4 linked regions of the Homo sapiens genome follow. The protein of the gene in region 1 interacts with the protein of each later gene in a pairwise test. Each region holds a gene or a part of one and is shown in the gene's direction. Other genes may lie near its edges. The genes, in order: PTCHD1, ZNF277, PON1 and KLHL32.

Evidence for each region.
Region 2: the proteins of PTCHD1 (region 1) and ZNF277 interact in a two-hybrid assay, tested with the Homo sapiens proteins (one study listed by BioGRID and IntAct).
Region 3: the proteins of PTCHD1 (region 1) and PON1 interact in a two-hybrid assay, tested with the Homo sapiens proteins (one study listed by BioGRID and IntAct).
Region 4: the proteins of PTCHD1 (region 1) and KLHL32 interact in a two-hybrid assay, tested with the Homo sapiens proteins (one study listed by BioGRID and IntAct).

Annotation. Positions count from the first base shown.
Region 1 is NC_000023.11:23,337,849-23,344,876, forward strand, and holds part of PTCHD1 (patched domain-containing protein 1), read left to right. Parts: intron 1-7,028. UniProt on the Homo sapiens protein: Required for the development and function of the thalamic reticular nucleus (TRN), a part of the thalamus that is critical for thalamocortical transmission, generation of sleep rhythms, sensorimotor processing and attention. Can bind cholesterol in vitro.
Region 2 is NC_000007.14:112,335,670-112,342,697, forward strand, and holds part of ZNF277 (zinc finger protein 277), read left to right. Parts: intron 1-434; coding exon 435-502; intron 503-2,060; coding exon 2,061-2,157; intron 2,158-4,173; coding exon 4,174-4,216; intron 4,217-5,202; coding exon 5,203-5,377; intron 5,378-5,385; exon of another isoform or gene 5,386-5,453; intron 5,454-6,891; coding exon 6,892-7,028. UniProt on the Homo sapiens protein: Probable transcription factor. Involved in modulation of cellular senescence; represses transcription of the tumor suppressor gene INK4A/ARF, perhaps acting via the Polycomb group (PcG) complex PRC1.
Region 3 is NC_000007.14:95,314,531-95,321,558, reverse strand, and holds part of PON1 (serum paraoxonase/arylesterase 1), read left to right. Parts: intron 1-3,165; coding exon 3,166-3,236; intron 3,237-4,769; coding exon 4,770-4,825; intron 4,826-6,068; coding exon 6,069-6,237; intron 6,238-7,028. UniProt on the Homo sapiens protein: Hydrolyzes the toxic metabolites of a variety of organophosphorus insecticides. Capable of hydrolyzing a broad spectrum of organophosphate substrates and lactones, and a number of aromatic carboxylic acid esters.
Region 4 is NC_000006.12:97,109,710-97,116,737, forward strand, and holds part of KLHL32 (kelch-like protein 32), read left to right. Parts: intron 1-4,073; coding exon 4,074-4,800; coding exon of another isoform or gene 4,801-4,859; exon of another isoform or gene 4,860-5,034; intron 5,035-7,028.

The DNA of each region.
Region 1 (7,028 bases):
CTCTTAATGTTTTGGGATTGTACCTGTGCAGTGAAGGAGATCCTTCTTGGGATATTGGTCCCACTATTTGCTGACAAAAAAAAAATAGACTGGGAGGGAGTGATGACAGAAAACGAAAAGCCAGGTTGACGTTTTTAAATGTAATTGAGAGTATTACAGAAAAATATCTGTATTTCAAAAATCCAGCTGATCTGGTTTGGAGGAGCTTTCTCGAATATGCGCAAGTGATATGATTACCATACTCTGACCACTGTAGCTTAGAAGTTGACCCCACACTGTGAGGCATGACTCCCCCCAGCGTTGGTTTCCCCTGAAGGCTACAGGGCAACGATGCATTATTAGGCAAAAGTGGGTAGGACCTGGTGGTGCTGATAAGGGCTCATGCAGTAATTTCTGAACCTCTTTACATACATGCTGCTCTTCAAACATCTTCCTTTTCCTAGAAAATTAAATTTAGCTGATTATATCTTTTAACAGAAGATCCATGATGTTCATCTCAAAGCAAATTTCAAAGGAGGGCCTCACAAGCTTTTATAGATACGTTTCGTTGCGATCACCTAAAATGAAGTGTAAGTAGGTCCCTTTGATAATTGATCCAGGCTGTTAACAAAACAATTCTTGATTTATTCCGGAATCATCTATTTAAAGTGAAGAATCAGTACAGCCCAGTACTTATGATAATGACATCATCTTTATAGGACTTTATAGGTTAGAAATATACAGTATGTTTAAATACAGTAAATTGGGAAAAATGCTATATCCCATTTTACATATGAGAAAACTACTTCTTAGAAGTTAACTGACTTGTCCATGGGAAAAAATACAAGGCTAGAACCAGGACTGGACTGGACCCAGGGTTTTGGACTCCAAGCCCAGTGTGCTTTTCATTGTAATTTACTTTCATATGATACACTACTGGAATGATTTAAAATGTACATTTTTGTTATCCAAATGAAGTACAGTTGACCAAAGTTTTATATCCCATCCCATCCAGTTGTTCTAATAGTGGTAATTGGATCATAAGAATATTTTTCTTGACTGATTCTGTCTAGTGTCAATTAAAATCCACATACAGAAACTCCAAATACCCAAAGTAAAGCATAAGATATTTATAATTAACAATATACAAGGATAGAAAGAAGATTTTTTTGGAAAAAAAATCTCTGGATGATTGAATGTAGCTGCTTCCTGATTGAGTGCTGCTCATTGGCAGGGTCCAGGTTGACTGAACTTTAGTGCCTTACACACTCCCTGGCACATAATAGCTACTCAATAAATACTTGTTGAATAGACCCTCCCTAGTTTACTCAGACATTTATGTGATGAGTTAAAGAAAATTCCATAAAAACGAATTTGAAATGTATTTACATAGTGAAATTTTTATTTTTACAACTTTACAGACAGTTACTAGGATTCTTTGTTTGCAAGATATCATTCTTCCCTCCTTGATAACCCCCGTAGTCATATCAAAGCGTATTTCAGTTTCAAAATTGGGTAGGGGAATTGCCTTTGTACAAAGTCCTCTTCTTCAGGGGAAACTCAGAATGTTTTATTCCAAACCACGGGAAGGACGCATCCTCACATAGCAAACATTCTTCCATTTACTAGGAGATCTCATTTCGCTCAAATATCAAGTTTCTGTTTTACTTAAAGCTTTTATGTTTAAATACATTAAATAGAATTAAGTTGCAAACAAGGTTAATAAAATCTAACCTTAAGTTATTTACTTCAGGCTTTCCAAGAAGGGCAGCATAACTGCTAGCTCGGGGTCACAAAGACTGGGTAGCTAGATCAAGATCATAGTTTTTCCAAATGCTGTCTCAACACTTGCAATCACTATGGGAATCACCATCATTTCTTCCTCCACAATCTAAGGATCAGCAAATTTCAGCCTAGTTTTTAACGTAGACTGAGTTTTTACAGTTTTAAAAGATTATAAACACAACAAAACAAAAACCAAGAAAGCTATATAGCAGAAATTGTGGCTCGCGAAGCCCGAGAGATTTGCTATCTGTACATTCAAAGTTCCTATGTTGTATTCTAAAATGTCATTACTAGAGCACTTTCAAGAAGTTAATACTGTGAATCTGTAAGGCAGTAGTTCTCAACCGGGGCTGACTGTGCACCCACCCAGGGGACATCTGGCAATGGCTGGAGACATTTTTGGTTGTCACAACTTGGGGAAGAGGCATGTGCTACTGGCATCTAGTGGGTAGAGGCACAGCGTAGCCCCCACAACAACAAAATTACCCAGCCCCAAATGTTAATAGTGCCAAGGTGGAGAAACTCTCTGCTTTGCATGTTTCTTTTGTTTTATAAAGATTCTTTTTTTGCTACTTTGATTATGTAAAATGAAAAAATGCCAAAGAGAAGTTCATAGAACTCTGGGGACAACTATTATGACCTCTGAGGTGATGCTCTCTTGGGCAGTTGAGCAGAGACCAGATTTTCCAGTGTAATCGTCCCCAAAATGCAGTTATCTTGCTCTCTTCGATGGCTCTGTCCCTTCAGGTCTAAATCCCACCTGCTGTAGAGGAGCCCAAGAAACTGAATGCAGTATAACTGCTTGAATGACGAAGGGGCTAAGTTGACACTGGCCTTTGAGACTTGTCCATTACTAGAGTGCCCATTATTGGCATGCCTTAAGCATCAGTCAGCAGCAGTCGCCCACTTAGGTCGGGCTTCTTCTGACAGTGTGTAAGACCCCACTGTGAGCAGCGACCTGAGGAGGCAGGAGGCAGTGCTTTGTTGCCTATTCCAGTCTCTCTGCTTTTCCAAGTATAAAATGACAAGAGAAGAGCTTGTATCAAAGAAACACGGAATCAAAGAACCTTCGGTTTAGAAGGCACCTTAAAGGTCATCTCCACAGAGGCTGATGCTAGAATCTTCTCTTAGCATCTCAGGGTGCTTTGTTTGGTGACAGGTGCTATGAAGCCTTGGGCAGTCCAGTCTCTTCTGGTGAGTTATCCAAGTGGCAGATACTCTTAGAAAAGATTGAGCCTGGGCCTGAAAGGGCAGCATTTGTGTATTTGCTGGGTCAGTCAATTGACTTTTACTCTTTATTTTTGTACTAGGGGAAAATTAAGGAGAGACTGAGATCGGTTTTCATTCTCCTTTCATTTCGTAGGTAGTGTATCCGAATAATCTAAGCACAGTCTCATCCTAGGGTTGTCTGACTTTTAAGTACATTTGATTTTTGCGATTAGTATGTAAAATGCCCACTTGTCTCATTTAGATTTGGGGAGCAGTCTTTTAATTCTCCATTTAGGTACACATTTGAGACAAACTTTGATTAAACTGAAATTTAGATATAAAGCCTTAGTGGGAGAGGAAGCCCACCTTTGTAATGACTCATGGCATCTTGATAGATGCCATATTAGAGTTAGGAAAGGATGATTCTATTTTAAATGACCACAAAAACTGAGCCTCTCAGGATTCACCAGACCTATAAAGCTCACAGGACAGTCAAGCATTGAACTGATGACTCCTTAAAAATACGAGAAGGAGAAGTAAGCTAACAGAAGTTATTTGTTTTCTACCTGAGTGTTTCCAGTCCCTTGGCACAAAAGCCAGGGAAATGTGAGATGCTGGTGAGCTGATCAACTTTGACTTTGTGGGATGTGCCATCTGGTACCTGATTTCGGGGCTCAGTGTGAGCCCCAAGTGATACTTGAGATAGGCTTAAAGCAGACCTTTGAAGTCACCTGCTTGATAGCACATCACAGCAAGCAGGCCTGTCTGCAGCACTGCCTGTGTCTCCGCCACATACCCGGAAGGCCACAGAACTACCGAGGAATCCTGCCAGACTGATTTAATGACCAGCAGGGGAGGTGAGTAATCGCTAACCTTTAAAAGACAAGAAAAGGAAAAAAAGAAAATCAACACCAGTTGTTATTTCTTACGGGAAGCCCTGAATAATATGTTGTGCTTGCAACTTCTGAATTCATATTTTGAACAAAAGGAGGCAGTGAGGAACTAGAAAAAGCTATTTTTATCTTCTTGCTCTCTAAGAAATCCTCTTGAGAATATTGTTTCTGCTATTTTGAAAGATCCCCATTGTTAGGTCTTCCACTTTAGGTTTAATTCATAGGCTTCAAGTACAGTTAAGATGATTTATGTAAGTGCAGTCGGTTATCTTGGGAGGTGATATCAGAAAAGGCTGATAGGGGAGTGGGGAAGTAAAACAGTGAGTAGCAGGAAGCCAATCAAGAGAGTATTATTAAGCAAGTGTCTACTGTGGGCAACTGGGGCTCAGTCTCACTAGGGAACTCTGGGAGACACTGTAGAATGTGTTGGAGAAATCTCAGTTGTGGATAAAGAAGCTGAATATTTTCTCCCCAACTCCAGCCATCATCGGCTGATTCAACTACATTTAGAAGCATTAAATTTCTGGCATTTTCATATGCTGTGTTTCTCCCTATATATATATATATATATATATATATATATATATATATATATATTTTTTTTTTTTTTTTTTTTTTAAAAGAATTGGGTACAGAGCTACAGGTGTTTGTGGCAAGCAACCTTAGCATGGAGAGGTGAGTGTGAGCTGAGACTATATGGGTGGGACCCTGAGAGCATCTGCCCTAAGGGTCTTATATTCATCTAGAGTTATACATCGAGAGATTTAGTGCCCCGTTTCTAGGGAATGGATATTCATCCCTTTACTCAACAAGATGGCTATGACCCTGTCTCCATGAAGCTTACAGTTAAGAATCATCCAGCATAGCTATTTAGTTATTCCCAAGTTTGACAAGTGCCAGTGGATGCTGGTAAAGATGACTCCAAACAGGGCCTAGACACCAACAGGATGTGTGGTTTTAGATGCCAGACCTCTACATTTGAGAGGCACATATTCATTCTCACCTTTATGAATACAGAAGTCTGCAGGCCCCCATCTTCACACATCTACTTTTGTTGTTCTCCCTAAAAGTGCCCTCCCTCCTCTCTTTAAGGACCAGTTCACATGCCTTCTACTTTATGAGGCTTTCTCAGATTCATGGCTTCTTCTCTCCCTTAAATCTATTGGGCTTTCATTCTTATACACATTCTTTAATGCAGAGCTGTAGACTCTTATGTAATTTGCTATATTGTCATGTGATCGTTTCTCTTAAGAGAGGTAATGAACTCTTCAGGGGCAGGAACAATGTCTGACACTGCCAGATCTCTCCTAGAGCCTAGCATAATGTGGAGTTTGCAGCAGGTGCTTAATAAATTGTTACTGGTTTATAGCTTGTAAGATGGAAAATGTGCTCTGCCTCCCTATTGATTTATTTTGGTCAAATATAATTTTGCCTGGTAGCATGACCATGTGATTTCTTGTGCTCTATATTCATTTTTCATCTTTGACAAATCTTGGTTTCAAACTTGTTGATAAGCAATAAGCATCCATTCTGTTTCCAGATCTGCTGCCATTTATATGAGGAGAAATTCTTGGAAAACCAAATATCTGACAACCTTCTCTGGTCCAAGTACAGTTTGGGAGGGTATGAACTTGACCTCAGTCCCCAATCAGTGGTGCATTTCCATGTGGGAGGGTGGATCCCTGTGCAGTTCCCAGTGAGCACCCTGGAACCCAAGTCCCCACACTACACATTCCCTTATTTACTTAAAGAAAAGTCTCAAAACATTGGCCACACCCATATTCAAATGTAAATAGGAAACACACTTAAAAGAAAACATCAAGGACAAGTGGTTTTCCTGACCATAGCACCAGTGTTCAGGAGATCACCATTCTGATGTTGCTTAGTCCCACTCTTCTTAAAAGTTAGCCCAGAGGAACAGAAAGTATTGTTCTAAGAGGCAAACTTAAAAGAAAATGATACTGGTACAAAATCAGCATATTTCTGTGAGTTTAATGGAAACACTAAAACTGCTAATTTTTCAGCGTGGAAGATAAAGATTCCTTTACCCATTCCTCCATGAGGCTCTCCTGCTGTCACTAATACCATGGCTTTGTCAATTCTTTCTAATTGTCTCAAGAAAAAATAATGCATCTCTGCTATAGAGCTGTCATTATAAATGCTCAAGAACATTTTGTGATATTTATACCTTAATTGTATGAGGTTTGAGTTGTTGGATTTTGTTTTTGGTCTTGTGGTATAGGCAAGTAGTCCTACTGAGTAAAGATTGTTTGATTGCTCTCAGACTTTCTAACATGCACACACGTCACCTAGGCATCTTGCTAAAATACAGACTGATTCAAAGGGTCTGGGGTGGGAACTGCAAGTCTGCATTTCTAACAAGATCTGAGGTGATGCTGATGCTACAGATCAGCAGAACACACTTGGAGTAGCAAGGCTCAAATTTAACTGTTGTAAACAGAAAACTGGATTTAGAATCAGGAAAGCCAAGTTCAAGTTCCAGTTCTCCTAAGTATGTATCTTTGGGCAAGTCACCTAACCTCCCTGAGAAACACGCTCCTTATTTGCACTGGGTGTAATAGCATCTCTTTCACCCACTTAAGGTAAAGATAGAATGAGATAAAGTATGTGAAGGCACTGTGTAACCATAGCCTTCTGTAAAGTGTGTTATCATTATTACTATTTACTTTGAAAATGACTGCTATTTCCTCACATGTGCCAGCTCTTTCAAAGCCATTATTGCCTGTTGAGTAATACACATGTAGCCACTTTTTTCTTTGATCCAACAGGCAATAATGGGTGCTCAAGCTACATTCAATACTCATATTGCCAATTTGTTGGTCTTTAATGACTCCATCTGAGTCATTACAGACAATTGGATTCAACCTACTGCTGAGCATGCAGCTCCTCTACCTGCAGAAAGTTCTTAGGCAGGCAGAGCTGCGGATGGGGATGGGTGCATTGCATTCCAGCACACCAACGTGGTTCCTCTGGGCTCAGAACCTACTCTTCATGCCTGATGGGGCTTTGCACACAAAAAAAGCCTTCACTTCCTGCCCAGGGAAGTGCCTTTTGAATTAAAGGTTCTGAGAGGCTGCGGGCTCTGGTTTCAGGGCTCTCCTCACCACATCTCACAGCACAGCATGCCAAAGAGGGATTCTC
Region 2 (7,028 bases), on another chromosome or scaffold:
ATTCTACTTTCTAATTCAACTCAAAAAATAGTTTATAGTAATAGTACCCACTGTATGCCAGGCTCTGGAAATGTAACAATGAACAAAGGCCATTAGAATCCCAGATATTCTAATACTCATTCAGGGTTTAGAAACACTGGTTCAAATTTAAGAGAAAAGAACTTGACTGAAAGGATATTGCTGCTTCTCTAAAAAATTATCTCATTAAGGTTTCAACTTCATATTGCTTTTGCACTGTCATTAAGTCAAAAAAAAGTGTTGAATCAAACCATCATAAGTTGGGCCATCTGTATATCCTACTTGTACTGTTTCAAAACCATTTAAACATGGGTGGTTTTGTTTATTTTTTTGGTTTTGATTTTTTTCAAAGTTCTACATACTCTCTCCCTTCTCTTTCCCCCAATGTCTCTCATCCCTCTGTTCTTCCTACAAAGGAACTTGGAAAATCGTGGGAAGAAGTTCAGTTGGAAGATGATCGGGAGTTGCTGGACCATCAGGAAGAGTAAGAGTTGTTATTGCTGCTAATTAATTGCAGTGTTCCAAGAGTAAGAAGACAATGCTTTAGTTTGGTTTAAATTATGAAGCGGGAACATAAGAAGAAAAAAATACCTTCTCTGAGCCATGCATCCCTTCATGTAATGTGGCAAAAACTTGAATTCAAAATAACTTTGACATAAAAATTCCTAAAGACACTGTTATTCCAACTAAATTAAAGCTATTGATTGAACACACAAGTAATATATAATTCAGAGAAAAATACATTCCGAAGTGCTTTGCCTGCTCAGTTAGTGCTCAGACCTTGAAGTGATGTGATCTTTGAACTCTCCATGTTGCTGTCATTGGAATAGAGAATATAACTGCATTGAAGTTAATCCTGTTCTGTGTTCGGGCCATTGATGACTAACTTTAAACATTCACAGCTTCTTTGCTTGAAATTATAAGCTTGAGAAATGTTCTTTTCAACCTAAAAGGATTTCTTATTTTTCATCTTCTTTTCAGTCAAAGCTTTTTGGCCTTTTTTCTCTCTCAGGATTTTAAATTATTATTATTTTAATAGTGAGGTAAAGCCCAAAGGTAGAGAGCTGCCATTTGCTGAATTTTCTTGATGCATAGAGATTCAGGCAGAGAGTCTTCCAGACTGAAATAAAAACATCTTTCCCATTAAGACATACTAGTTGGAATATTTAATCAGTGAATGTTAAAGTTTTAATGACACAAAAGGTTATAAATAGTAAGTCATGACCTGGGCCGGGACTGGTGGCTCCCTCCTGGATGGATAGAGTTAAGGAAAATGTTTCCTGTTTTCTAATAGGGAAGCTTCTGTGTGAATTGGGTTAGGTTGATCTTGAGAGTCTTATCAGTGATCATTTCTGAGCTTGCCATGAAAAATTCTCTCATCTGAATTTGAATGGGTGTTCCTTGTCTCCACAACTCTTCCCTCCTGGCAGTTTTCCTGGTTTGGGAATGATAAGAAGTTGGTAGTATTTCAAAAAGGGAAATGCCAAGGAGCGGGGAAAGTGGTAAAAGGGATCCTGTATCCTTTTTGAGTTCCCTGTCTACCGCCAGATTTAACACTTGCCCAGTTTAAAATAATCAGTATTTCCCTCGTGAAAGAGACACGGTTTGCCTTTGTAAAATACACTATTTGTCATGCAGAAACACATTCCCGGCATCACACCTCACAGCGTGTGCACTCAGTGGTTGTGGTTAATGGGAGAGAGCATCACATTTTCTGATATGTCTCCTTTGCAAATTAAACCTCATTGTCTCAGGACGACATTCCTCTGACTGTAGACTGAGATAGCTACTCAGAAGAACGGCAAATAGGAGAAAATGGAACAGCACCTGTTCACTATGTATATTAATTTCATGGTGCTGCTTTGAATTTCAAAAGCTATATCAGAGAGTCATAATATGATGTGACAGTCTTTACCAAAATGTCAGAGTTGAAAGAGATTGGCAGGGTTTTTTAGTAAGGAGAAAGCAATACCAAGTCACTGTGTAGTATACTCTCTTAATGAAGGGAATCTCCGTATTTTCTCTCCTCTTTTTTAATTCAGTGACTGGTCTGATTGGGAAGAACACCCTGCCTCTGCAGTCTGCTTATTTTGTGAAAAGCAAGCAGAAACAATTGAGAAGTTGTATGTCCACATGGAGGTAAGATACCTGTATTTATTTGAATTTTGTTTTATTCTGACAGGGGAAAGCTAGTAATTGTTGCACCCTCATCTGCTTTTACTTCAGTTTCCCAATCATTATTCCAACCAGAAGAGACAGGCCAGGTCTGTCAGGGAGAACCAGAGCTCAGGGCAATTTAGTTAGTACAGTTGACTGGACCCGAGTGAGCTGTTTGTTAGTGTGAGATTTCTCAGACCACTGATGCCATCTCACCTTTGAGATGCTTACAAGATCATTCTAGCTCAGCAGGTGGGACAGGTTCTGAGTCTTTTTTCCAGTGCTTCTTGTGCTGGTGAATAGGAGAGCAAGAAGGGAGAACATTGCCATTTACAAAGGTCCCGGAGGAATAGGGAAAAAGGAGGGTGGGTAGAGAGGAGCTAGGGCATGATCCTACAGTTCCTTCAGGTGCCAGGATTTAGAGAGAAGAAACTAGGGAGCATTCCTAGTGTGGGCTTTCCCTTCTGGATGCCATTTTTATGTTATAGTGAAGCTTGGAGCTAGCAGTTCTAAACCTTTTTCACCCCAGTATACCTGAGAGAGGACACACACCCTGCACCTCTGATCCTTAGCTGCACAAGGCGGATAGGGAAGGGGAACATGTAATGATTCATGATAGTATCACAGCTTGTGGGCAGAGGGGTGATTATAATAGAAAAATATTACTGGATGATTCTGATATCTCTCCGTCCCCTCCCTGCAGCCACCTCTGCCAATAGTGGACCATATTCTCTACTTTCACCCACTTTCACCTCACCCTTATTCAGAAATACTGTTCTTAGTTTAGTAAAATAAGGGCCTAGAAAGCGCTCAAAAGACCATAAACATTTTCCTTGATTTTAGTTTCTCTGAAAAAGGTTCCCACTAGTATGTGTGTATAATTTCCTGTGTTTAGATTTAATTCATAATATCTTAATGTCTTTGTATTGAAGGCAGCCTTAGTATGCCTATCCTGTGTAAGGATTACCTTTTCGGCATCCTTGACAGGTGTCCTTAACCTCTGCTGGGTCACTTTCAGTGATAACATCACGAATTCCTAATCATCCTTCATATGGTGCTACACTAAATGCCATCCCAGTGAGTTAAATGGTCTTTATCATCTGTGAGATTGTAGGTTAAAACATTTACACAGACAATTGCAGGTGTCAAACAAACACGCAAAAAATAAGTGCATTGTAAAAATCAAAAGAAAGCGTGATTTATAGGAAGGTGTGAGTGAAGAGAAGCTTTGAGGTTTAAACAGTGTATTTGACAGCATAAAATGAAAAGCAGAATTTGTAAAAATTACCTATGTGGGGCAAAGAACCTATATCCATAATTCTAGTCCAAATGCACAGTACAATAGAAACATATCTTACCTACACTTTTATCACACTGCAGAATGCATACATAGACTTCTACATTTTTAGAAGGCTACAAAATGGATAACATTGTAAATTATAAAAACTATAGATATAAGCTATGAGCAATTATAATGTTGTTGCTGTTCTTTGATATGGAGTCTCGCTGTGTCACCCAGGCTGGAGTGCAGTGTCACGATCTCAGCTCACTGCAACCTCTGCCTGCTAGGTTCAAGCGATTCTCGTGCCTCAGCCTTCTGAGTAGCTGGGATTACAGGCACCCACCACCACACCCAGCCAATTTTTGTATTTTTAGTAGAGACGGGGTTTTGCCATGTTGGCCAGGCTGGTCTCAAACTCCTGACCTCGGGTGATCCGCCCACCTCGGTCTCCCAAAGTGCTGGGATTATAGGCGTGAGCCACCGCGCCCGGCCCAATTATAATGGTTTAACTGATTGACATGACTTGTTTGGACTATGCTGTAAAAAAGTTGGGTATGGAGGGAAGTAGTTAGACTTGGAAGACTTCAAAAGCAGAAGATACCGAACTCAGACTGAGTTTCTAAACTACTCAAACTCCTGTGAATAAGTTGTTTATAACTTCAGCCTGAAAGATTAAATAATTCATATGCTTACAGATGTATTCATTCCTTTTTTAGGATGCACACGAATTTGATCTTCTCAAAATAAAGTCAGAACTTGGTAAGTTTGATTCAGAGGTTTTTTTCTGTGATGCTTCATTTTTTATAAACCATCCTGTAAGCTATGCCTATGTTCAGTAGCTATGATTGGAGAGTGCACCACCAAAACATGTCTCTCTATAGATGGTCTTGACAGAACTCTCTGTGAAGCAGTGATGCTCAACCATAATAGTCAAATATGGTTTTTGGTTTCATATACTCCTTCTTTCTCTTTCCTACATATATGAGTGCTTCAAGTGAAATATAAGTTAGTGGTTAATAATATATCATAAATTGGAGGGGGCTAGTGGAATATGGATTTTTAAGTCAAACTAGAGTTCAGATTCCAGCTCTGGCACTTACTGGCTATGACATTGGGCCTCAGGTCAGAAAAATGTTATGAGGAGTGAATAATGTATGGTAAATGGCTACTGCACTGCTTAGCAGTATAGCTAGGATTGTTTGTTATAGGTGTACCCAATGTATCATTCTAAGTATCACAACAATAGAACGATTTGGGGCATTAAGACATACGTAAAGTACTGACTTGCTAATAGATCTAAGACAGTAAAAAACTTACTTCTCACAGCTCAGCTCAGTCACTGCTTTCCTAGGTCCTTGGATGTGTTACTTTGCTGCTTTTATAGACATATATATACATTGTTTATATAATTAGCTTAGTAGTCAAGCATGGGCTTTGCAGCTGACAGCTATCTATGCGATGCTAGGCAGTTTCCTAATATGTAATGTAGGTATGATACTACCTATCTGATAGGGTTTTATGAAGATTAAATGTATTAATACATGGAAAATTATTAGAATAGTGCCTAGCTCATAAGCCCTGTGTAAATATGTGCTGTTATTATTTGGTATCTATTATTATGCTTTATAATTGTACTGCCTCTTCAGGTTGATTAATAAAAATAAGTGGCTCCTTTAAGAAATTATAATAGTGCAAAAAATGGGTCTGAACAGTTGTCTAATGATTCTGTATTTTGTCATTTTCAGGATTAAATTTCTATCAGCAAGTGAAACTGGTCAATTTTATTCGGAGGCAAGTTCACCAATGCAGATGTTATGGCTGCCATGTGAAGTTCAAATCCAAAGCAGACTTAAGAACTCACATGGAAGAAACTAAACACACTTCGCTGCTCCCCGATAGAAAGACGTGGGATCAACTGGAGTACGTACTGCAAAACCAAATGTGCACTTCTTACTCCAACTCTTTGATTTTGTCCCTTTATTTAATTTCTTTAAGCCTACAGAAAAAAAAGGAATACATATTTATTATAAAAAGTATACATCAGTACAGTGTGGGGAAAAATGTAAAAATATTCAAAATGCTTATTTTTAAAATAATCCCCCTCTTACAAATGAAACCAAGTATTTTTCAGTATTTGTGATATGGAGATAGATACATATGTAGAGAGATGAAGTAGATACAGATTTTTTAAATTATATTTTATTAACAAAATATTGTAAATATCTTTCAATAGCCAGTATCCATCTGTTGCATCCTTTCTAATGGTTGCTAAATATCCATTGTATGGATATAATCTATTCTGCGAGATACTTAGGTTGTTTCTTACTTTTTGCTATTATAATGATACAGTGAATCTATATGCCTACATTTTAGCACACTTATCTAATTATTTAATTAAGCTGAACTCCTAGAAATAAAATTACTATGTCAGAGTTTGCACACTGCTAGGACTTTTTGTATATATTTTGTATATTGGCACTTGAAAAAATTAAGCAGTTGGTCATCTGTTGTTGGATTCCCATGTATCCTTTGCCAGAACTTTGTGGACTGGTTCCCAAGTATCCTTTGCCAAGAACCTTCTGGACTGGTTCTCACATCGTTCTGGATAACCTCAGTCGAGGGCTCCTCTGAGAGACTGTGGGGTTCTAGCTGCCCAGAGCTCCTTCTGTTCTTAGGGAATGTTAAGTCAGTTCCCCCAGAACTTTAACCAGAAAGTTCTAGTTTTTCTCCTTCAGAAAATCCCACACTTGTGAGGGTACCCTGTTTTTATGATCCTTCTTATATAAATTAAAATTTGTAATATTCCAAAAGTAACTTCAAAATGTATTCAGAGAAGGAACCAGAATAACAAACTTTATATTCCGTAAGTGTTTCCTTTTGTGATTACCTAGAAAGAAGGAACTATTAGGCTGGAAAACAAAACACAAGGAAGAGCTTATTATTCTCAATTATTTGAATAATTTGTGTTTGAAAAATTAACTATATTTGAAGTTTGTTAACTTATAAGGAAGAACTAGGACCTTTGAGTAGAAATGAGAAAGATGTCATTTTTAGCTTCACAGGAGGTGTATCAAACAACTAGATCTACCCACTACTGGGGTCAGCTACCTTCGAAGATAGTGTGTTTTGTTATCATGATAGATGATCAAGCAGAGGCTAAGTGGCCAGCGGACAACTCCAGAGGCAACTCTGGAGGGTGGGAGGTCCACGATCTTGGTTTACCAAATCTGGATAGTAGATTTGGTAAGGTTGATGTCAGCCAGTAAAAGTCAAAGTGAAAGCAATCAGAAGTTGTCTCCAGTATAGCCTTTGCAAAATGCTATGAAATTGTTGGCAAGGATACCTGACAAAATTATAGTAAATGTGTACATTCAGCTACCTGGACACTGTATTAGCTTGGTAATTTAATACTATGTATCTGTGGTTGTTTTCAGGTATTATTTTCCAACCTATGAAAATGACACTCTCCTGTGTACACTATCTGACAGTGAAAGTGACCTGACAGCTCAGGAACAAAATGAAAATGTTCCCATCATCAGTGAAGATACATCTAAACTGTATGCTTTGAAAC
Region 3 (7,028 bases), on another chromosome or scaffold:
TCTCAAAGGTGGCTAAAAAGATTAAATGAGGAAGTATGTGTGAGAGCCCTTATTGGAGCTTGGCACATAGTAGGCCATGAAAAGCAATTTGAATGAATGAGGCGTGTGTAGTAGCAGAAAATAGACTGATTAGAGTGAATTTGGCCCCAAGAAGAGTTTGAGAATCGATACGGATTTCTTAATGCCTAGGCAAAGATCTCTGCTTTTTTCTGCGAGCAGCCAGCATGTATTTTCACCGAATACTTCTGCCTTGGTTTGGATGTTCGTCCTCTCCAAACCTCGTATTTGATCTCTAATGTTGGAGGTGGGGCCCAATGGGAGGTGTTTGGGTCATGAAGATGGATCCCTCATGAATAGATTAATGACCTCCTTGGGAGTGAGTGAATTCTCACTCTATTCATTTCGAGAGAGCTGGTTGATTGAAAAGAGCCTGGTACCTCTCCCCTCTCTTACATTCTCTCTCATCCCATGATCTCTGTGAGTACTGGCTTCTCTTCATCTTCTGCAATGAGTGGAAGCAGCCAGAGCCCCTCACCAGATGCAGATACCCAATCCTGAACTTTCTAACCATCCAGAATCATAAGCCAAATAAACCTTTTTTCTTTATCAGTTGCTTAGCCTCAGATGTTCCTTTAGAGTGACACAAAGCAGACTCAGACAAGTTCACAGCAAAGGCTGTATGGTTTCTGCGCAGAGTTCAGAGTCTAGTGAATCAGAGATATATCTCAGACATTGACCCTTATCTCTTAGGCCCAGAACATTTGGACTTAAGCCTTTGACAAGATATTTCCTAATAAATTGAAAATGAGGTAGAAAAAATATGAGTTGGATGATAATAACACAGGTGGGTCAATTTTCAGGTGCATCTTCCAGCTTTTAAGCAGTGTTCTCTGTAGATTTTGCCTGGTCAGAGAGCTAAATGTGAGCTTTGTGTTCATACTTGAATTCCAATCCCTGCTCAGCCACTTTATAACTCTGTGGCCTTAGAAAGCCACTTAATCTTGGTCAACTATAACTTAGGGAAAATAACACCTCACGGAGGTGTTTGAGGATTAAACGCGGGCATATACGGTACCTGAACTATAGTAGTAATGATTATCCTGTTGAGATATGACATGTTTGGGCCACAAATTGGAACCCAAATCAACAAGTGCTGACTTAATGCCCCCTTGCCCACCCTGGGCTCCCTTTAACTGTGATTATTCTATGTTTTCCAGGCTAGAGATCATCTTCTATGAGAGAGAAGCCTGAATTAGAATAGGAGCTGACCAGTTCTGCCTTTCTCCATCTTTTGTGAACCCATATGTTTAGTGACCCTTGTGAGTCAGGCAGCATGAGTATTCTTCCCATTGGTTTTGAGTCTAAGAAAAGTGAATTTGACTATCCTTGGTGTTTTTCACAAGTCTTGGCCCATTCAGTGATTTTATGTCCTTGAATCTCTCCTTCCATGCCAGTCTTTGTGTTGTCCTCGGTTATGACCATCACCCTTAACATCTTGTACCTGCCCTTTGGTTCCTTGAGGGCATGCTACAAATATTCACTACACTTTCCCTAGACCAGAGTTTTTTCAAATGGTGGGTAACAAAGTCAATTTAGTAAATAATTACCAACATTTAAAAATAAATAAAACAGAATTGAACAGAAAAGTTATGAATGTATGACACAGATTAGGATGAGTATTGTTTTGTGAAGCTTGATTCAGATGTGTATGTGTATGTGTGTGCATGTGCTGGGTGTTCGCACCATATAAAATACTTTTCCTACTGTGAGTCTCTGTCTGAAAAGTTTGTAAGCCACTGCTTTATCACTTCCCCTTTTATTTCCTTATTGTCAATATTTGCAATTATAATGTCAGATTTTCATTTTGAAAATACCTTTCCCTTTCTTAGGTTATGGGACAGATTCCAACTTTCCTTTGAAGCCTGCTTTCTAAGTTCACATCTATCAATCAGGAAACCACAGTCTCCTCACAGTCCAAGCCTTCATCATCTATTCATTCATCTCTGTATTTCTAGTACCTAGACTGGTGGCTCTTTACTCTGGTTATACGTTGGGACAAACTGTGGCACTTTTACAAAGCAGATTATTAAGAGGCACTCCTTGCCTCTTACGTCAGATTTTTTTAGACAGCGAAAATGATAGCCAGTGGCCTGATGGTAGGAATGTACTCATTTTTTTCTGAATGAATAAATGAAAGATCAATCACCCCCAAATTCCTATCATTTTGTACCACGTCGGTAAGAATTTTATCTAGCGTGTCTGTTCCGCCTGTAGCCCATCCGCCTCCTGTGAGTTCAAGTCATCAGGAGGACAAGTAAATTTCTTAGCCTATCTGAAGCCAAATAAGATTTCTAGGGATATTTGGATAATTGTCACTACTTGCTATGACAATACTGTATCACTAGTTCTCTAAAAAAAAAAAAAAAAGTTTATTGTTTAAATCTCTTGGTTGTGCTAACGTCGTCTGTTTCTTTCAAATGCAGCATCAGTAGCTTCGCTCTGCTCAGGCAGCCGGCTGGCACTTCCTTCTCACATCTGTTCATTTTTCCTTTGTCCTTTACTCAGACATTTTCTATGGTGTTTATGCACTCATATCTAATAAGTCGCTCCTGTGTATGTGTGTGAGTGCACCTGTGTGTGTGAAATGCCTTTTTACATGCAGGCCTTGTGTATGATTTTCTGAAGTTACAAATCCTTTCAACGTACCTGTATTTTTCAAGCACTACATCACAAAGCAGATGCCCAGTCCAGGCTGCGGAGTCAGATTGGGCAGATGAGTAGGAGGCTGCCCATCTGTCAGCAACTCTAAAACATCAATGGAATAAACTGGAACCATGTTGCCATTTACCCGGACTTTCCACCTAGGAGTCCTTACACACTGATGAAATTGCTCCTGTTCCTGCCAAAGTACACAGAGCCCTAGAGAGGATATTATGTATCTCTTATGTGTACCTATCCACCTCTGCTAAATAAAAACTAAATATTGTACCCAGAGTTCCCCACTTGTCTTGCCCTGGCCTTGCCTGGAAAAATTGCAGGAAAAACTCTGGAGTTGAAACTCAGGCAAAGTACAGTGAAGGAGAACTTTTGTGGACTGCCTACCTTTGCAACTTATTATAATTTCTGAATAGTTTTGTGTGTGTTTTATTTCTTTCTCCCCCACAGAACACGACTTAATGCTCTCCGAGAGGTACAACCCGTAGAACTTCCTAACTGTAATTTAGTTAAAGGAATCGGTATGTATGTGAGAGGAAGAAGGGTCTCATTTGAACTTCCGGTATTTTTTTGCTCTTTGTGTGATTAATGTGCCTGTTCAATTCTGTCCAAAAATAAAATTTTGAATCAGGAGAGTCAGTGGTAGTTAATGATAAATACCATGTTGTTTGACTTTTGACTTCACCAACATACTGCCAAGGTGTTGGGAGTTTTGGTTGTTTGTTTTTGTTTGATCAATAGAGCAAAAAAAAAAAAAAGAAAAAAAGAAAAAAGAAAAATAGAATAATGTTTGATTCCATGGCAATCTAACCTGAGGAGATGGCAGAAGAGGGGAGGGAGAGCCAGATAAAGCATTGAATAAAGGTAACTTTTTTTTAGAAAGGCTCTGACAGGACTTTGCAATTACCACAAGGCTTCTCCTTATGCATCTCTCTTTTGATATTGGACAGGAAAATTTTTTCCAGAAGCTCTCAGCAGATTTCCCCTTAGATCTTATTTGTCAGAGCTGGAGGACAGGCTGGTGCCCTAGTTGCAAAGGATGCTGGGAAAGTAATTATCAAGCCTCCAATGTGGGAGGCAGGCCCTGTCAGCAAAGATAAAACGGTAGGAGAATAGCAGCTGGGAGGCAACCAACAAGGAGAGTCCCCGGGCTCAACTCTCCAGCTGGTTCCAACCAACCAGCTTTGTTATTTGAAGACAATTGGTTTGAGATCATGCTTTTGTGTGCTTTGGGTGTTTCTTTTTCTTTCTTTTTTTTTTTTTTTTTTTTGTTCTTTTAGAATTATTCATCTCAGTTGATTAAGGCTCAGGAGGCTAGATCAGATGACTTAGTACCACTAAATTTCACTAGATATCTTATGGTGCGATTGTTTTCTAGAAAAATATGATATTGATATCAAATATCACTGGGTTTTTGAAAAGCAAACTTTCCACTAAGTGTAGAAATACCTATCAAATAGTTCATTTTTCTCTAGATAAATTGAAATGTTAAAAATTTACATGTACTTAAAGTATAACTAACTTGAAGACAGTAATATTTAACCGATGTTTATAATTAGTAGTAAAAATTCATATTCTTGATCACCTAAAATGTATCCCCATTTTAACTCAACTATTTGGAATTTGCTTATATCTTCAATATGGCTTTCCAAGGGTTTAATTGATTTGGAAGTATTAAGTATCAACATATATTTGTAATTTACCTTGTATCTTTAGAAAACAAGTTCTTTTCAAATAATCATGGCTTTTGTACGTTTTGTGAATTTCCATGAACTTTAAGAGGATTCAGTCTTTGAGGAAAAAGCTCTAGTCCATCAATTTAAAACAAATATACTAAGTGTAAATTTTAATTAAACTTGTTAATGAATTAATATATTTTTAATTTCCATATAATCGCATTCATCAATTTGAATAAATGAAAGAATGAATTATTCTGAACCTATTAAAGAAGAGTGATGTATAGCCCCAGTTTCAAGTGAGGTGTGATAAAGAAATGGATCCACATCCTGCAATAATATGAAACAACCTGTACTTTCTGTTCTCTTTTCTGGCAGAAACTGGCTCTGAAGACTTGGAGATACTGCCTAATGGACTGGCTTTCATTAGCTCTGTGAGTGTTTTCTTTCACTTTTCTGTGTTCTAGAACGTTTTCTAGGACTGGCAGTTTAAGTCTTTCACTTAGGCTTTCTGTATACCCATGCCCACTTTCAAATAAAATGAACAGTCATGGTTTAAAAGACAAATTGTGTATGCATTTACACTTGTGCTATAATTATGATCATGCGTGTTCTATGCATATTTGTGTTCTTCGGTCTACATTGAACCATATTACGTTAGCTTCTATTGCAGCAATTTTTTTGTGAGTTCAGTGTATTCAAGAATTGTTTTCCTCTCAATTGTCTATTCCCTAAGCACTTAAAATTGCCATATTCAAATATTTGCTAAATTAAATATACATTTAATGTATACTACTTCACAGGTCATTTCAACTTTCACATTTTTAAACAAATTTCAGAATAAGCCCTTTAATTTAAAATTGTTGATAGGTCCCAATTCCCAATTCCCAAGCTTTGAAGACAGAATCCACCATATTTGCTGAAACTGTCCTGCATATAGATCGCTATGGTAGCTGATATAGTGCAAAACAAAAGAAGTCCACCATCTGGCCTAGGGATCATAACATAACAGAGTTGATAGGAAACGACAGACAATCATCCAGCCATTTAAAAACCTTTGCTACCCCTTGTAATTTACTTAGTCCAGTTTTCTCTTACAAAGATGATAGACTAGTCATCCTGCAAAGCAATGTCTTGCAAACTTTCTTGAGCAACATAAGGTGTATTTCAAGCAAAATCTTATATGGGAACACAATATATAAAACAACAGCTTTATTGTTTTGATTGAAGGCTAAGAAAGGAGTAGTTCCTCTGGCCCACCAAAACTCTGTCTTTGAGATGCTTCCAAGGACCTACCAGGGAACAGTTTAAAAGCCATAAGCAATATTCTCTCTGTATTCCTTGCTTATATCATTGAAGACTATTATTAATTGCCTTTTTGGTCTGCTCTTCCATTTTTGATCTTTCTCATGGGCTGGAAGCTGTAGTGTCGTGCACATATGACTTTGCTGCAGGGGATGAAAGGGTTTGTGTGGGGTGGCCTAGTGGAGCATGTGGCTTCCAGAAGACTTCTCCTGGGGACCCATTACAGAAGCTAACTAAGAGGCTTCCTATGTGGCCATCTGGCTAGCCCTGTGGTTTGGAGCAGTCAACATGAACCCATGGGCCATGCAGCGCCTCTATTAGCATTTGAAGTACTGGTATTGTGCTTGATTTTTCTCCTCCATGGTTTATAAGGGATTAAAGTATCCTGGAATAAAGAGCTTCAACCCCAACAGTCCTGGAAAAATACTTCTGATGGACCTGAATGAAGAAGATCCAACAGTGTTGGAATTGGGGATCACTGGAAGTAAATTTGATGTATCTTCATTTAACCCTCATGGGATTAGCACATTCACAGATGAAGGTAACAATATTTACTATTTATTAAAACCAAAACCAAACTTAAAACAAAAACAGAAAAACATGCCAATAAATGAATTATTTTTTCTCATTCAAACAAAGCATAGTCATGAATAATGTTCTTACTCTGGGTTTTAAACTTACCCTCTATGTTAATTGAACTTTATAGTAAAACCACTTAAATACTTGAGAATGCTAAAATATTTAAGATTTGTAAAGCATCTAATTTTGTAAAATACTAACATTCACATTATCCCTATAATTACCATAATAATAATATCCAGCCCTGATCATTATAGCTTTTCCATTTTAAACGATTTTCAAGACTCGGGCATTTACAGGAACAGATTTTTCTAACCCAAGGCATCTGTAAGCTATAGGTCCAGTGACAGAAAGTCACCATGGTCAGCTTTCTGCCGGTCCCATTATCTTCAATGCCTCCTGTCCGCTGGTTCCTCTGTTCTGTGTTCAAAATGCTCCTCTGCATGTTGGTCCCTTTCAACATAACTTGGTGTCATCCTTTATGTCTTTACTCCCTTTCTCCCTTTCCATTTGCTGTCACTTCCTTGTCTCTGTATTAATTTTCAGCCCCAGTTGCACAATGGTAGCACCTGAAGAGTTTAAAAAGACTCGATGCCCAGCCCCCAGCTTGACAGATTCCAATTCCGTTAGTCTGAGGGAGGCCTGGATCACAGTAGTTGTTAAAAGTTTTTCAGTTGATAAAAATGTCAGGCTAGGGTTAAGAACCACGTTTATACCCATTACCTCCATTTCATCATCAGACGATCCCTCATT
Region 4 (7,028 bases), on another chromosome or scaffold:
AAAATAATTAAATGGGCAGCACTATGCTATAAAAAGAGCCTATGGAGACATGGATATTTATCTAATGTCTCTAGTGCTGTTTCCGGTAGTATCTATGTGGATGCAGAACTGTAAGGATATAAGAATGCCAAGAAATTGGTTGCAGAGCAAAGCAATATCAGCTAGAATTACTTGACTAAATTAGGAACAATAGCAAATATTACGTTTCAGAAATTTTTCCCTGGTGCATAAGAAATGACCTTGAGCTGGATGACTTTATCCCTGAGAACTTTTAAAAACACTGTGGGCAAAGAGTGGAAAATTATTTATCAAGTTGCTGAACAATCTCCCCAGAAATAATTGGAACCCCGTGTCTTGAAAATTCCAAGATTAGGGTAGAGAAAATCTAGGGTGCAGCATGTGGGAACTGTCTCCACTTCTGGCAGAGACCTGGTGATTGATGAGTACCATTTTTCCATATCACTCATTTCTTTTGCAATATCTTTGATTATTGCAGATATTACCATACATAGATAATTTTTTGTCAGGTTGGTATCTTATTTAGTTAAAAATGCTACCTTCTATAAAAGCATCTAGAGTGTATCGCTTGTTTGACCTCTACCGTGTCTGCCTCCTTGGCACCTAGCGACATTTCCTTTTTCATTTCTCTCACTCTGTCACTCATTAAGAGATGCAATTCATGACGTAGCAGAAGTGAATTCACTTCCACGTTCACTTCATTCAGAAAACTAAAAAGACAAGCCCAAAATGCATCTTGCCTTTCTGGAGCCCTTTTTCAACTGGATGCAGAAACTCTGAATGTCTGAAATCATCTAGTGCCTTAGAGAGTTTAGTGATTCTTTTCACCGGGTTGAAAACCCAGTTTGTGTTTGCCAAGGAGCAGTGGTCTGAGAATACCACATTTCCTCTTCCCTCCCTCAGTACATTTCCCCTGATCCCCCAGTAAAATCTGTTATCTGAACAGGGAAGCCCAGAATCCTGATTCCATGGTTCAAAAAGGAAGTAAAGCACGATAAAATTGAAGCAGGATATTTTCCTTGACAGCTTTGCAGGCGGGAACCGGAGCACGGGCAATGGAGCTAGCTGGCTATTTCGGTGCCGGCAGGGGCAAACTCAAAACAGAAGCCTGCTGCTGTTGGTGTGGGGATGGTTGTGGCAATTCACATTGTTCTGAATTGCTTATCTGATTGCTGGGCCAAATGCTTATTCTACTTAGTAACATTTCTGAAGTTTGTAGCAAAACCTTAACATTATAAAAGAACAGATAAGGAGCCATTTCAAACCACAAAGGAAGAAAGGAAAGATACCACAGAAAAGTCTTGGGGGGGGGGGGTCTTAGCCAACCACCTGTTACATCTGGGACTGGGTCCAGTCCAGGGGCCTTCCAGCAACACTGAGGAGTGGCCTTGGCCAGATGCCTTCAGTTGCCCCAGGACTTTATTCTGGTCCCACATGGTGGCTAAGCCTCCATGAAGGGAAACAGAGCCAACATTCCTTTCACCTGCAGGAAAGAGAGAGATGGCAGTGTTGCATCCTGTCCCCTGCAAGAGGCATAGCTCAGAAGAAAGTCTGAGGACAAGAAGAGACAGATCTGCATTTTACTCACCCTTCTGATGTATCCTAGGCAGGCTCCCAGAGGAAGATCCTGGGCGGGCCTCCAGATTCCCTGACCCCTTCACGGGCGGGAACTGGAATGCGGGTGCTGGGGCTAGCCAGCCGCTTCAGTGCCAGCAGAGGTAAACTTCACTCACTCGAACCCGCTGCACCCAACCCCTCATGGGACGGAACATGCAGGTGAGTGAGTGCAGGACCTGGCAAGTGCTTTTGGGCACTGGCAGGAGCAAAACTCTGTGCAGGCCCCACCACAGCATCTAGTGGGGAGTGCCTGTAGCCCCCAAAGCTCCAGAAGGAGTGTTATGGTACACCTTCTTTTATCTTTGCCATCTGTGGATGGCTTAAATATTAACAGCTCAGTGGAGGGTCACCCTCTTGGCACCTGAGTTCTTGTCTGGCGTTCAGGAGGAATGAAGTCACACAAACAAGATGAAGACGGTAAATGTGGGGGATTTTATTGCCAATGAAAGTGACTCTTAGTAGAAAGGGGAGCTGGAAAGGGGATGGGGTGGGAAGGTAATCTTCCCCTGAAGTCTGGCCATCCCCTGTTGGACTCCTCTCTGAAGCTATGCTGTCAAGCTGTCCCTCTGAAGTCAAGCCACTTCTCTCCAACTATAGTCTCTGACATTTAGCTGCTGCTTCTCCTCTTGATGTTCAGTCACTTCTCCTCTCTGCTGGCTGTGTCAGGGGTTTTTATGGGTACAGGATGGGGGGGTGGGGTGGATCATGGGTGGTTTTGGAAAAGTCAACATTCCAGCATGAAACAGGAATGTATGTTCTCACTTTGGGCTGCGGTGCCAGGCTTGAGGGTGGGGCCCTCAGTGGGGACCCATCTTCTTCTGCCCAGAATTTCCTGCCTCCTGTCCCTATCAAAATTATTTAATATTCTATTTCTTTGCTTCATTCTTTCCTGCTAATTCCTTCAGACTCACATTCACATTGTCTGGGAGATCTACTTTAATGTAAGTGCTGCTAAGAATAATTCATATCAAATATGTTGACTGAGATGTTAGATATACTTCATTATGCTGGTGTGTGGGAAGGTTTGCCAAACTTAACTATTAAGTCACACTAATTAAATTACTTTAGGTGCTCCATAAATGAATTGTGGTTTTTTCATTGATGATTTTTTTTTTTTCCTGAGATGGAGTCTTGCTCTGTTGCCCAGGCTGGAGTGCAATGGTGGGATCTCAGCTCACTGTAAGCTCCACCTCCCGGGTTCAAGCAATTCTCCTGCCTCAGCCTCCCGAGTAGCTGGGACTACAGGCACGTGCCACCACGCCCAGCTAATTTTTGTAGTCTTAGTAAAGACAGGGTTTCACCATGTTGGCCAGGCTGGACTCAAACCCTTGACCTCTTGATCTGCCTGCCTAGGCCTCCCAAAGTGCTGGGATTACAGGCGTGAGCCACCATGCCTGGCCCTGATGAATTTTTTTAATTTTAAAAAAAAAAAGGAGAATTTCTTAAAACTAAAGCAGGTACATTATCATAAATAACAAAATGAAACAATATTCTTTATTATTTAATAATAAATATATAATTTTATTTATAAAATTATTATAACAAAATTAAACAATAATTTTTATTATGTATGACAATGTACCTGCTTTAGTTTTAAGAAATTCTCTTTGCTCATATCAAAATGTTATAACTCCTTTCCTTCTTAGAAGAGATCTGAAAGGAATAAAAAGGTTAGGATTACATTCTGCTATTATGTTCATAATACAAAGATGATCTCCTCTATATTCTGTTTTTGTGCAAACGACTCTAACAAATTTCCAGTATCTTACATGTGCAAATTACAACTGTCTTCAAGGTAAAAGTTAATTGAGAGAAAAAATTAATAGGTTAGAATCTTATTTTTTCTTTTCTTGCTTCCTGACTGTTATACCTACTAAAGGGATGTGGGGTGGGAGGGGGAGTCTTTTTTCTTTCTAAATCATTCTGCTAGTGTTATGTTGACTTTCTCTCAAGTACACCCTGTGGTCTCAGATGATCACATATTTTCTTACGTTACTCATATTGATACAGCACCTTGGCTTATGGGTTGACATATATTACCTGAGCTTTGATGACACCTCCCACCATTGACATTTCCTGGTGGTGGGGTGTACTGAGCCTCTTATGCATGAAACATAAGGGAACAGGCTGTTTCACAACAGCATTTTCATTCTTTGAAAATCAATTACTGTTCACCCCAAATGGTATCTGAAGCCCCCATCAGTGTTGCTTCACATTGTTTCTTACCCCTACAGCAATGTCTTGAGTGCTTTTGTGTCTTTGCTGAGACGGAAAAAAAGTTCCTCACATGGGCTTCAAAATATTCCAGTTATACTGTTTGTAAGAAAGTTTGTATTATTACCTGCCTGGAAGAATACAGGTAACCTACCTATATGCTGTTGCTTTCTCTTTCTTTCTTACCTTTGTGTCTCCTCTCATCTCACTTCCCTCTGTTTCAGCTAGCTGTGAGGTGGTTGGAACACAACTGCCACTACCAGTACATGGACGAGCTCCTGCAATACATCCGCTTTGGCCTAATGGATGTGGATACTCTCCATACAGTTGCCCTGTCCCACCCCCTTGTCCAAGCAAGTGAGACTGCAACAGCCCTTGTCAACGAGGCCCTGGAATACCACCAGAGCATCTATGCACAGCCTGTCTGGCAGACTCGCAGGACCAAACCACGATTCCAGTCAGACACTCTGTATATCATTGGTGGGAAAAAGCGCGAGGTCTGCAAGGTCAAGGAACTTCGGTACTTCAATCCTGTTGATCAGGAGAATGCTCTCATAGCTGCCATTGCCAACTGGAGTGAGCTGGCTCCCATGCCTGTGGGAAGGAGCCACCATTGTGTGGCAGTCATGGGGGACTTCCTGTTTGTGGCAGGAGGGGAAGTTGAGCATGCCAGTGGCCGGACGTGTGCTGTGAGGACTGCCTGTCGCTATGACCCCCGCAGTAATTCCTGGGCAGAGATAGCACCCATGAAAAACTGCCGGGAGCATTTTGTGCTGGGTGCCATGGAGGAATACCTCTATGCAGTTGGGGGCAGAAATGAACTGCGCCAGGTTCTGCCTACAGTTGAGCGATATTGCCCCAAGAAGAACAAATGGACTTTTGTTCAGTCCTTTGACAGATCCCTTTCATGCCATGCTGGATATGTGGCTGATGGTCTTCTTTGGATATCAGGTAGAACATACCTCATGTTGGATTTATCAAAACACACTTTCATTGTGGTATATATTTAAAAGTCAAGCTTTAATACTGTGGCCATGTGTAATTGAAAGATTGAACCAAGCATGCCATTTTAGCTAATTAACATTCATTTATTGAGCACCTACTCTAGAGAGCAATGTAATTGGAAATAATATGCCTTTCTGTGACTTTCTGAGTGACTAATGGAATAAAAATTCAAGGTGGAAATTGTTGGTCCATCACAACTGTTTTTTTCCTACCAGAACTTCTCCTGTCAGCTCTTGATTATTCATGGATTGTATTGCACAGCTTGTGGTTTATCTAGGTCCTTTGCTTTTTCTTTCACCCCTGGCTACCTGACTAGAGCCATTTCATCAAAGACAAGGCAAGAGAAGTATAAGCCCAGTTAATCCATTTTTCTGGGTATATCAATAGGTATATATCCAAGTAATCACTATGCTGTGCATTGAGAGAAGGGATTTAAGTTACCAAAACAAAGTTGTTGTTGTTGCTGTTTCAGATAGGGTCTCACTCTTGTTACCCAGGCTGGAGTGCAGTGGTGCCATCTCGACTCACTGCAACCTCCACCTCTCAGGCTCAAGTGATCCTCCCACCTCAGCTTCCCAAATAGCTGGGACTACAGGAGCACACCACCACACCCAGCTAATTTTTGTAATTTTTGTCAAGGCAGGGTTTCACTACATTGCCCAGGCTGCCCTTGAACTCCTGAGCTCAAGCAATCCACCAGTCTTGGCCTCCCAAAGTGTTGGGATTGCAGGCGTGAGCCACTGTGCCCAGCCTAAAACAAAGTTTGTTTGTTTTTAATTATCCGTGAATGGTAGTTACTTGTGCCATTCTAACCCTTCATTCCTATTTACTCTCCTATTTTTACTGATGGTACAGTTTGAGCTCTAGTTTACCTTTTCATCTCTTTTGAAAACCTTTTGATTATGGAAAAAGTAGGGAGACTAGAATAATGAACCCCATGTACCCACAACCCAAAATCCACAATTAACTACTCCTTGCCAATCTTGTTTTCTCTACACCCACAGACCCATCACACCCCTCTGGGCTGCCTTTTTGCTTATACAGAAGGAGTCTGTGAGGCATATGCTATCAACATCACATTATAAACATGTGTTTTCAATCTTAGTTTTGAGAAAGGCCCTAAGTGTTCTCCTTTGAAAGGTTTTTCTATCAGGAAGAAAGCTGCATTTTCTCCCAGTTGGAAGATACTCATATTGTAATCCAAATGGAACTTGTTGGATTTCTGTGTCATCAAGCACTAAGAGGAATAGAAAGGGTAAAAAACTTAAATATTAAGAATAACCCTGATGTTTGTACTTAGAAGAAATCATTACTTTTAAGTACACCTGCAAAGGCTTCTCAGCTTTCCTCAATAATCGTCTCTAGTGTTCTAACACCTGCTCTGACAAAATTCTCCCTTGCACTTCTTTAAATTCATTTGGACTTTGACTGTTCTTCTGCTGTCCTCAATAACCAGGAAGATAGTCACAGGCTCAGCTTCTCTGAGCGGTGCCTCAGTTATTGGCAATTCACTGAGTTTTATTGACAGAACCTAGCTCACATCAGGGTTTAAGTGCTCAATAAATTAATGAATGAAGGGAAGACTAGGACTAAGGAAGCAGACAGATGAAGTGGACCCAACATTTACTGGCTCTATACCAAAGAAACATTAGAAACAAGTATGTATGTTAGTATATGTAGATATATTTAAATTAAAACCTCATTTATCTAATTACTGTTCCTTTTTCTTTAAATGTATATTTCAACAGTTAATAACCACCAAGACTATATTCTTTTAGCTGTGCTGGAGAAATTTCAAGCTAGGCAGCAAATAAGTCTTTGCTAACAGAAGGAACAGATCTGTACTTGTCTTGGATGGCAAAACAACGATGGGTTTATGAAATCAATGCCATTTATGTTTTCTCCCAATTGACATTCCTTCCATTGACTCATTTAGTTTCATATATTATTAATATACTGTATTCCTAAATTTTGCACTGCATTTTCTAAGTTTTGTATGAATTTCTCATAAATATTTTAATAAATATTCCTTGTGTTTTGGCTGTAAACCTAGCTTGTAAAAGAATGCTGGGGTTTCCCTTACATAGTCTTAAAGATATGACGATTTAATACCTTCTTCAGTGAGGCCTTAAGAAAGCACAGAAGCTCCTCTTAGACTCGCTAGATCCGTCGTC